Linked DNA regions of Homo sapiens: region 2 is linked to region 1. The links come from fine-mapping of genetic effects on gene expression. A gene starts in region 1. The other region holds a variant in brackets. All regions are shown on one strand. Distances are between the middles of the regions.

What was found.
Region 2: its variant is fine-mapped to the expression of MACF1 in whole blood (TOPMed, PIP above 0.99).

What each region holds. Positions count from the first base shown.
Region 1 is chr1:39,201,693-39,207,070 of GRCh38, reverse strand. MACF1 (microtubule actin crosslinking factor 1) reads right to left here and starts at 2,376. Exons shown (of 101, transcript NM_001394062.1): 1 at 1,940-2,376. The coding sequence starts at 2,048. RefSeq lists an enhancer at 2,011-2,190.
Region 2 is chr1:39,335,506-39,340,883 of GRCh38, reverse strand. It overlaps MACF1 (microtubule actin crosslinking factor 1), which reads right to left. Exons shown (of 101, transcript NM_001394062.1): 37 at 4,231-5,378; 38 at 3,553-3,702; 39 at 167-382; 40 at 1-80. Among named protein-coding and RNA genes, the nearest start is that of MACF1, 130 kb to the right of the region's middle. The variant AC/C (reference allele first, on the strand shown) is at 2,623.

The DNA.
Region 1 (5,378 bases):
ATCATTATTATTACTATTATTAGGCACAAGACCTATGTGCTATAGTTTGTTCTGCAATACTGTATGTAACTCCAATTAAAAAAAAAAAAAAGACTACATCAGAAGAAGCGATCTTTGTGTTTTTAATCAAGTGTACATTTATTAATAGTACAAATATATACACAGAGATGGTGGAAAAACTTTATTCTGTGATGTCCAACTGGCAGGTAATTAGAGTGTACATATTATTTTTAAAAATACATTTTTAAATAAATGAAATGCATCTTAAAATTGCAATTATAATAAAATGGGTACAGAATCTCGTAAGTAACTCCATGGAAGATTTGGAATCCATAGCCTCCAATTGAAAAATGACATCTCTCATTTTACAGATAAAGCAAACGTAGCACATTCCCGATATAACTATTTGGTATTAGAATCAAAGTTGTTTCATAGAAATAAAAAGCTTTTACAATGTATCTTTTTATTTCAATTACTTTATGGCTGTTTATGAAATTAACATTTCTAAACATAAAAAAGAAAGCACTTAAAATACAGTGATAGCTCTTAAGTTCCATTAAAGTCCTATACTGAAGATAAACTTTAAAAATATTAACAACTAATTAGTTATTTAATGTTTAAAAATGACATTACCATAATGCACAAGGAAAGAAAAGCAGCAGCCTCTACCTAAATGATATTGTATTTATTTTCTCATTACATGTGAAATAGTAAATAGGACCAAACAACTTAAGCCTGCCTATCTCTTTCTTTCTAAGTTCAAATACAGGAAAGCCACTTTGAGGTGGCTTTTTTAAAAACACCACCACACAATCAAACACACTTCTAAAATGTCTGTCTTTGTTTCCGCTGCTATAGATGCACACTAGGATCTGAATATTTAGTCAAAAGCTTTTCTGGGACGTACTGGAAAGGACACTGGGGAATGATTGAATCTAATTCTAATTCTGTCAGGCGTTTGTGAACTTTTAATAGAAAGCTAAATAATAAGCCATCAAATCCCCACCTTAACTTGTAAGATACACTATAAAAAGTGTCTACATACCTAAGTTTGAAGGTAGTGAGCCCATCACAATGAGAGTACTGAAGGCAATGAGACCCAAGGGTATACACTCCAGTAAAAGTTAGACCATATGAATCCTCAACCATGGAGACTCAGAATCAGCCAAACTCAGGGCTGATCCCTGCTCTGAGTGTTTAGAAGTCAACAGAATATAACTAATAGCAATATGGGAAGAATGAGGGTTCTGGTGCCATTACAAAAAAAAATTTTTTTTTTAATTATCAAAGCCTGATTCCCTAGGGAAGAGAGGGATTAACTTCCTTGCATTGAACAAGATGATTTGGATACACATAGCCAAACTGTGTAGGAACAGTATCAATGATATCAAAGAGAACACAGACACCCAGTGTTCCAGGATGCCCCTCGGCAAGGACATCGCACGACCCCTTCCACTGACTGACCCTTCCTCCTCTGCCTTTTCTCACCCCAAAACACACCAAGTTAACAGAAACTTCTCCAACCCAAATCTATACCTGGAGGAGGGTAAAAGAGTTACTGTATGTTTTCAGTTAAAAACAAGGTTCCAAGAAACCACTCTGAGATTGAGAAAGAAAGAGCTCAGTTCTCTGAGGAAAGACTAAGTCAGCACAGCAGCCACTTCCCTTCAGTTTTGAGCCCAGTCATCACCTCATCTAACCAGCACTCTCCAGACAGACTCACAGAACAGAAAAGAGCACCACCCCCATCCCAAAGTGGCCCCAGGGCAGACCAGCTTCTTCATTATACTCACACACACACACTCTTAAGTCTGACAGCACCCCAGCTGAAGGACGTACTGGCCCTTTAAGGAAAGCAACTGGGAAGACCTCCATCATTCACCCCACCCTCAAAAGCCCCACAGTAGATTTAAAGAATAACTGGGTACCAGTTAGTTACCTGCTCTACCTCTGGCATGCCTCTTCCAGTATAGAACACCAGCAACTCCAAGAACGTGAGTCAAAATAAAGATGGTTGGTGGTAAATAAGATGAATCTAAGAGGGGCATTTCCAGGCCCGTCCTTTCTCCTCCCTTGAGTTAGCCACAAGCTCAGCGCAGGCCTCTGGATGCCTTTCTCCTGAGGTTACTGTTGTCCTGTACTATCAGCAGAGGCAGAGGCCGGAGCTTAGTGTTGTCAGAAACTTCCTGGCAGCTTCTCCTCCATCTCACTTCTGACTGTTTTTCAGCAGGCGCTAGTAGACTGGGACTAAAACTGTACAGTGTATCTCAGACAAAGCCCAGGAAACAACTGGCCAGCGGGGGAGGGGAAAGGGAAGAAGGAACAAGGAGAGTGAAAAGGAGCGCCTAAGCCAGTGTCAAGCTGACTCAAACCTCTATCTTTGGCATCCTCTGCTCAGCTTAAATAAACAAACCTCAGACCCTTCTACAAGAAGGGAGGGTGTCAGAGGACGTCACACTCTTAACTTTCCATTCCCAGCCTGCCTGCAAGGCCAGACTTCAGGATGTAGCCAGAAGAAAAAAGTCACAGAAGCATTAGGGAACCTCTTGCGGGGAGAAAGCAAAGTACATGAGGATGTATGAGCACCACAAGTACCCTGGAGTTGTCAGAGGGCAAACCCTCCATACCCACAACCCGGGAGGAGAAGCAAGGAGCCTGAACATCAGTCCAGGGAGGATACATACAGAGCAAGCTCCCATGAAGCAGACCTGACATCTAGGTGTGATGAAGATCAGCGAGGAGAGCAAACTGCTCATTTAGGGGGTACTTCTCAAGGGTTAAAAAAATCCGTCTGGCTGGGCGCAGTGGTTCATGGCTGTAATCCCAGCACTTTGGAAGGCACGATATCAGTTCACTGCAACCTCCGCCTCTAGGGTTGAAGCAATTCTCCTGCCTCAGCCTCCTGAGTAGCTGGGATTACAGGTGGATGCCACCGCACCCAGCTAATTTTTATATTTTTAGTAGAGATGGGGTTTCACCATGTTGGCCAAGCTGGTCTCGAACTCCTGACCTCAAGCAATCCTCCCGCCTCTGCCTCCAAAGGTGCTGGGATTACAGGCATGTGCCACTGTGCCCGGCCTTAGACCAGAGGACCCAGCAATCTCACTCCTAGGTATCTATCCAAGAAAAAGAGAAACGTATATCCACACAAAGACCTGTATATGAATGTTTGCAGCAGCATTATTCATAATATAAAAAACTGGAAACAACCCAAATGTCCATCAACTGGTAAATGTATAAACAAATTGTGCATCCATATAATGGACTACCTATTCTGCAATAAAATAGAATAAAACTACTGATACATACGACGACACAGATGATTCTCAAAACTATTATGCTACATAAAAAAAGCCAAACACAAAAGGCTACATACCATATGATTCCATTTATATAACTTTCTAGAAAAGCAAAACTATACAACTAGAAATGGAAGAGGCTGAGAATGAGGGAAGGAAATTGACTAAAAGGATCACAAAATAACTGTAAGAGGATGGAAATGTTCCTTTTGTTGATTGTGGTGGTGGTTCCATGACTGTATACATTTGTCCAAACTCACTAAATCAGGCCAGATGCAGTGGCTCATGCTTGTAATCCCTGCACTTCAGGAGGCTGAGGCAGGAGGATCACTTGAGCCCAGGAGTTCAGGACCAGACTGAGTAACACAGTGGGACCCCATTTCTACAAAAAAATTTTAAAATTTAGCCAGATGAGATGGTATGTGTGTATAGTCCCAGCTACTGGGGAGGCTGAGGTGGGAAGATGGCTTGAGCCCAGGAATCAAGGCTGCAGCAAGCCATGATCATGCCACTGCACTACAGCCTTTTTATTTGAGACAAAGTGAGACCCTGTTTACTTACTTCTAAAGTACCTATTACACTATGATATAGATGAAGATGCTATAGTCTCACAAGCTTTAAAAAATGAAAATTGCTTTATATATCTGTCAAGTTTATTTTTTTCTAATAATAGGGAAGGGTTTTACTTTTTTTTCTATGTGAAATCTTTATTTATTTATTTATTTTCCTTTTGCTTTTTTCTAGAGCTTGTTGAAGCAAAAGGAAAGAGTTTTAGATGTGCATAACCTACTACCCAGAAAAATAATAAAGGGGCCTTGACGGGACCACTAATACAATGGGAACTTTTAAATCTGGCAATAGGATCATCTACAATTTTGTGCTAACCTACATTTCATTCATCAAATATTTACTTCATATTATGTGCCAGGTCATGTTCCAGGTACCAGAAACAATAGCAGTAAACAAAACAAAGACCTTGCTCTCACAGAACTTACATACTAGTAGGAGAAGAAAGAAAAGAAATATAAACAGGTAAATACATAGCTTGTCACATAAATGCTATGGAGAATACTAAAGGAGACGAAGAGGAGATGGAGTGTCAATGTCAATGGGGGATAGTTTACTTTTTTTTTTTTTGAGACAGAGTCTTGCTCTGTTGCCCAGGCTGGAGTGCAGTGGCATGATCTTGGCTCACTGCAACCTGTGCCTCCCGGCTTCAAGCGATTCTCCTGCCTCAGCCTCCTGAGCAGCTGGGACTACAGGCACGTGCCACTACACCTAGCTAATTTTTCTATTTTTAGTAGAGATGGGGTTTCACCGCATTGGCCAGGCTGGTCTCGAACTCCTGACCTCGTGATCCAACTGCCTTGGCCTCCCAAAGTGCTGGGATTACAGGTGTGAGCCACTGCGCCCGGCCAGCACCTAGCCAAGTTTACGGTTTTATATATAGGATGGTCAGAGAAGGCTCGTCTAATAAGGTGACATCTGAGCAGATAAAGAATATGAGGCCGGGCGTGGTGGCTCACGCCTGTAATCCCAGCACTTTGGGAGGCGGAGGCGGGTGGATCATGAGGTCAGGAGACTGAGACCATCATGGCTAACACCGTGAAACCCCATCTCTACTAAAATTACAAAAACTTAGCTGGGCGTGGTGATGGTCGCCTGTAATCCCAGCTACTTGGGAGGCTGAGGCAGGAGAATGGTTTGAACCCGGGAGGCAGAGCTTGCAGTGAGCCGAGATTGCGCCACTGCACTCCAGCCTGGGAGACAGAGTGAGAGTGCATCTCAAAAAAAAAAAAAAAAAAAAAAAAAAAAAGAATATGAGCAAACAAGTCATGTGGCTATCTGGAGAATGGATAAGCCAAAGAACAAGTGCAAAGTCCCTGAGGCAGAATTACGTTTCTTATGTTCAGGGAACACCAAAGAACCTAGAATGGCTGGACCTGAAAGAGGAAAGGAAAGAGTATCAGAAGAGGAGGCCAGAGACGAGGTCAGATCACCTATGGCTGTACAGATCATTGTAAAGCCTTTGGCTTTTATTCTAGGTGAAACGGGAAGCCATTGGAGGGCTTTGTGTGA
Region 2 (5,378 bases), 130 kb before region 1:
ATAAGATTTTTATTGCCAACCCAGGCTCTCAGATCTTGAAGTCGGCCTTCTAGCTGTGTGTGCTGATTTAACACTTTAGTCTAAGAAATAAATGGAAAATCACATTATGAAAATCTCCCAGCCACCCAGACTTTGTGAGCCTTTATGAATAAAAGCAAAATGCTACCTTTTCTATTTCCACAGCATTCTGGAAGTGGAGTAGCCTGGAATTCCAAGTGTCACTCACAGAGCTGAGAGACTTCTGAAGATTCTTGGCATCTTTCTCTAGAGCCTTCAACAGTTGAGCAGGAACTTCTTGAGGCTGGCTGATGATAATCTGATTCACACACTCCAGCTCCTGACTGACCAAGGTGGTCAGATCCTTTAACTCCCTTTCTAATACCTGAGGGAATAAAGTGGAGTTACCTATAAAAGCAAGACTAGAAACCCTCTGGGAATCAGCTGTGAACACATTTCTCTCTCACCCCATGTCTACACACACTTTAGGGCTTAGAAAATGTTTTTATGTACATTCATTAGTTTACTTGGTTCTCACAATCACTAATTCATGAAGTAGGCAAGGTAGATGTTACTGTTCTGGATTTACAGAAGAGATGCCTCATTGCTTAAAAAAAAAATGTGAATGGTGTCCAAGGTCACCCAGCTGGTAAGCAGTACAGCCAGGACTTGGATTCAGGTTTTCTCACTCAGTGCAGTGTGCTCCCTCCACTGTAACTTGCTGCCTCTCTGAGAGTGTCATTATGCCTTTCCCCAAGGAGCAGCTGTGCAGAATTAATGTGCTACAAAATAAACCGAACGGATGACTCTTCCACTCTAAATTCCAGGGTCATGGAACCAAAGAATACAAAGCTAACCCCAACCAGCTTTTCCACTCATCTAGTCTGTAATATTCTGGTCCTCAACAGATAAGCCGGAAATAAGCTGTGGAAGAACTTGACATAGTTCTTTGGGGCATCATCCTCAGCCCCGGTTCAGCCACCCTACCCAAGGCCACACACTAGATATTGAGAGAACCAGTAAACCACTACAATCTGTCTTCATGGTGACTCCAATCCTATGACAACTCTTAACCTCCAATTTCAGTGAAATAGCCACTCTTCCTCCCTCTCAAGGCTGTCTTTCTACGTTTTTAGGGGACTGGTTCTATCAGTTATCACTTCCTCTCTCTTCTAACTTCAAGTTCTCCCTTTTAATTGGTTCTTTCTCCTCAGTCCAAAACCCATTCAAAACATTCCTTTCAATCCATCTCCTTCAAGTAGTGTCCCACCTCATTCCTTGCCTGTACCTAAGACTTCTGGAAAGAAGGATCTATATTAATTGTCTCTACTTTCCAACCTCCCATTTCTTCCAGCTGCAAGTTAGTTTATATCCCGTCACTCCACTGAAACTGTTCAAAGTCACCAATAACTTTCAGGAGCTGAATCTCCCCTTCAGTCCTCATTGTACTCAATCTCCCTGTGGCAGTTACTAGGGCTGACTCCTCCTCCTTTGGTTTCTGTGAGACGAGTGTTTCCAGGTCTTCTTCAGAGATCTCCAGTTAGACTTTTTCAATCTATTTTTGTTGTTGTTGTTTCTTTGTTGGTCCTTTAAATGGCAGTGCTTTTGAATATATTTTTCTTTCTTTTTTTTAAGACAGGGTCTCACTCCGTCTCCCAGACTGGAGTGCAGTGATGCATTCATAGCTCAATACAACCTCAAACTCCTGGGCTCAGGCAAATCCTCCTGCCTCAGCTTCCTGAGTGGCTGGGACTAGGGTGTATACCACCAGGCTTGGCTAATTTCTTACTGTGTTGCCCAGGATGATCTCAAACTCCTGGGCTCAAGCAATCCTCTTGTCTTGGCCTACCAAAGTGCTGGGATTATAGGCATGAGCCACTGTGACTGGCCCTCAGTATGTTTTTTTTCCTAAATAGTCTGTATTTTGTCCAAGTTTCTTTTTCTTTGTTTTAGCCTCTCCTTTTGTATCAGAAGCTTTCTGGATGCTGAAGTGGAGTGTAATGCCCTAAAAAGCTGACTATAAACTCTGCTGGCTGTAGTCTTCACTGAGGGTGATGGAGCTGGGCCATACAGTTGGGAAACCACTTATATCAGTACCATTAGGTCTTCCCCCTTGGGCTGGTCAAACCATAGCGGGAGCAAGGATATAGCTCAAAATTCAGTATGTATGTGAACTTCCAGTTAATCCTACTGATTTCTGTATGGAATATTTACCTTCAATAAATGGCTGCTCTCCCTAGTCAAGAGATACTTTGAATTACTTTCCTCAGAGAATGAACATCCAGCCTTTCGTTAGAGCACAGCACAAGCAGTTGCCAGGCTATGTGAAGTAAGTTGAAAATCTAAAGGTCTAATTGCTTCTTAAACAGACTTTAAACCAATTATAAGCCCGTTTGCATATCCATTTTCATCTCTTTCTGGTGCTCCCAATTTTTGAGGCTTTGGGGAGTTCTGTAGTATAAATCAGGTTGTTCCTTAGCTTCCTCCACTTTAAGTTGAGGATCTGGTTTACTCTAGCTTGCTAAGGTAGTTATCGCCTCATCCAGCTGCTTTCTAACTTCTAAAATTTTACTGCTGTTTTCTCCTCTCTTGCCCTTTTATGAATTTATGCACTAAAAAAAAAAA[AC/C]AACCCAAAAAACCTTTTTCCTGATGTCTTAGTATAGTTTTAGGAAGTAAGAGAGATTAACTTACATATCTAATCTACTGTTTTAAGCCTCCAACATTTCTTGCTTGAATTACTGCAATAGTTTCCTAACCAATCACTCTGCCTTTGAACTTACCTAAATCAATCCAAAACCACGCAGATAACAATTGGTAGGGCCGGGCGTGGTGGCTCACACCTGTAATCCTAGCACTTTGGGAGGCCGAGGAGGGCAGATCACGAGGTCAGGAGATCAAGACCATCTTGGCTAACACGGTGAAACCCCGTCTCTACTAAATATACAAAAAATTAGCTGGGCGTGGCGGCAGGCGCCTGTAGTCCCAGCTACTCGGGAGGCTGAGGCAGGAGAATGGCGGAAACCCGGGAGGCAGAGCTTGCAGTGAGCCGAGATCACGCCACTGCACTCCAGCCTGGGCAACAGAGTGAGACTCCATCTCAAAAAAAAAACACACACACACAAAAAAACACAAAAAACAAACAAACAAGAAAAATTAGCCAGGCGTGGCGGCAGGTGCCTATAGTCGCAGCTATTCGGGAGGCTGAGGCAGGGGAATTGCTTGAACCCGGGAGGCGGAGGTTGCAGTGAGCCGAGATCACCGCTACTGCACTCCACCCTGGGTGACAGAGCAAGACTCTATCTCAAAAAAAAAAAAAAAAAAAAATGGTAGTAATTACATTGATAGCCAAATCCAAGGTCTGTTCAAGTTTATCCTGTATAAATTTTATCCGGTCTATCCAAATGTAGCCCATCCCATAATTATCTGACAAGGGTCTGAGATTGTTTACCCTAGAATAGAGTGCAAGCAGGTTCTAGTAAGTCTTGAAATCTTCAAGGAAGATGGAGGCAGCTATCTTGAAGCTGGTGTCTGTGGTGGAAGTCTCTGGGAACCTACCTTGGCCTGACACAGCAGATCCTGTAGTTCTGCCAGGTTTAGCTCCAAAGGTTGAATCTGTTTGGTCCTCATTTCAATGTTCCGTAACAGAGACAGATAGGATACTAGCTTTTCATCATGTTCTAAACAGAGTTGCCGGGTAAATACATTCTGTGGAGCCAAAAAGAAAGCTGACTCAGTTCTGACGTTCTCCTGTAAGTCAGCTTTAAAGCAGGCAGGGGTTTTTGTTAGACAAATAGAAGCAATTTTTACTGCACATAGAGTGGGATAAAATAAAACACTTTGTTTAAGTCATTTCAAATCAATAGACAAAGGTGATTTTACCAATTTCCTCAGAGAGCAGAAGCTCAGAGCTATCAATCTACAAGCATCATTTTACCAAAATTTCCAAAAGCTATTCTGATTTCAGGTAGCATCATCCTAGTATTTCTATTAGCTCGTTTCTATTTAAAACCCTTGCAGATTTCAGAAAGACATTCAGAGCCAATGCCTAATTTTCCAACAACTTTGCTACAAACAGATGATGATAAACTAAGTTATATCTTAGAGAATCATCTAGTGCCTTAAAATGTATAGAGGCATACAATTACACATATGTAAACTCTGTACCCAGTTAAGAATTTTAGCATTAAACTAATTGTATCTTTAGGAAGAAAAAAAAAAAAGCACACCACTGACCTGAGTTGCTCTGAAGGGCTCTGGGTTTACACCTCCATTTCCCTTTCCTTCAGGTGCAGTCATGAAGGGAGTTTGTTCACTGCCAGGGCTTTCTCTGAGCTTTTCCTGTGGTGTCTTCTCTGTCTTCACTGCAGAGCATACTGTTAGGGACACTGTCTTTTCTTCACTGGTCTCTAGAACAGTAGGACTAATGATGGCATTCTGTTGCCCTGTATTCTCTTTTTGAGACACTCCTTTGAACAGTTTCTCTGGAAGAAAGGATCCCAAGACTCTGGAACCTCTCTGAGTCACTATGTCCTCAATGGATCCTGCTTCTAGACCTGCAACATTAGGGTTTGCCATTTCTAGAAATTTCTCTCCAGTTAGTTCCTGTGTTGCTATTTCAGATTTGAGAGTTCCACAAAGTTTATCATCACTTTTGCTGCCCTGATGATGAAGGTCTTTTCTGTCTGAGAATTCTAGATACCTGACTTCTTTTGAATCTGGTCTAGAAACTGTGATTTCTTCCAATTTAAGACCTCTTGCTGGGTCAAAAGATACTTCTTGGTATGACTTTTCTTTACATTCATTAGATGAGGAAATTTGATGTTTGGTTTCCTTAGTTTTCGAAGTAACCCAGGAATCTTGATAGTTGGTCTCCTGTCTGGTGGTTCCTTGGAAAGACTTGTCTGTTTTGGAAATTTGGGATGGGCCTGTCACTTGGGCTTTTCCATCTGATTCCTGGTAGTGCAATCCTTCAGGTCTTGGGGTCATACAAGGGAATGGTTCACTCTGGGCCCCACAGGCAATTTCTCGAGATAAGTTTTCTTCTGGTTTTAAAGTCAAGCAGAGACTTAAATTGTTTACTTTTCCTTCATTGGCCTGTTTAGAGCTGAAGAGTGTTAAAGCATCTAAATGTTTTACAGAAATTCCTTGAGGTACCACTTGGGAAGAGGACTCTTCAATTTTAAAAGTAATAGAAAATCCCATTTCTGTATCAGCTTCTTTCCCTTTTTCACTTGAGGTCATTTCCCTAGGTTGGCTCTTTATATGGGAGTCATGCTCATCTCTAATGGCAGTTTCCTGATACAACTTTTCTTCAGAAAGAAATGCTGGTTTGCATGTTCTGATACTTTCTTCTACAATCACCTCCCTCTTCTCTCTCTTAC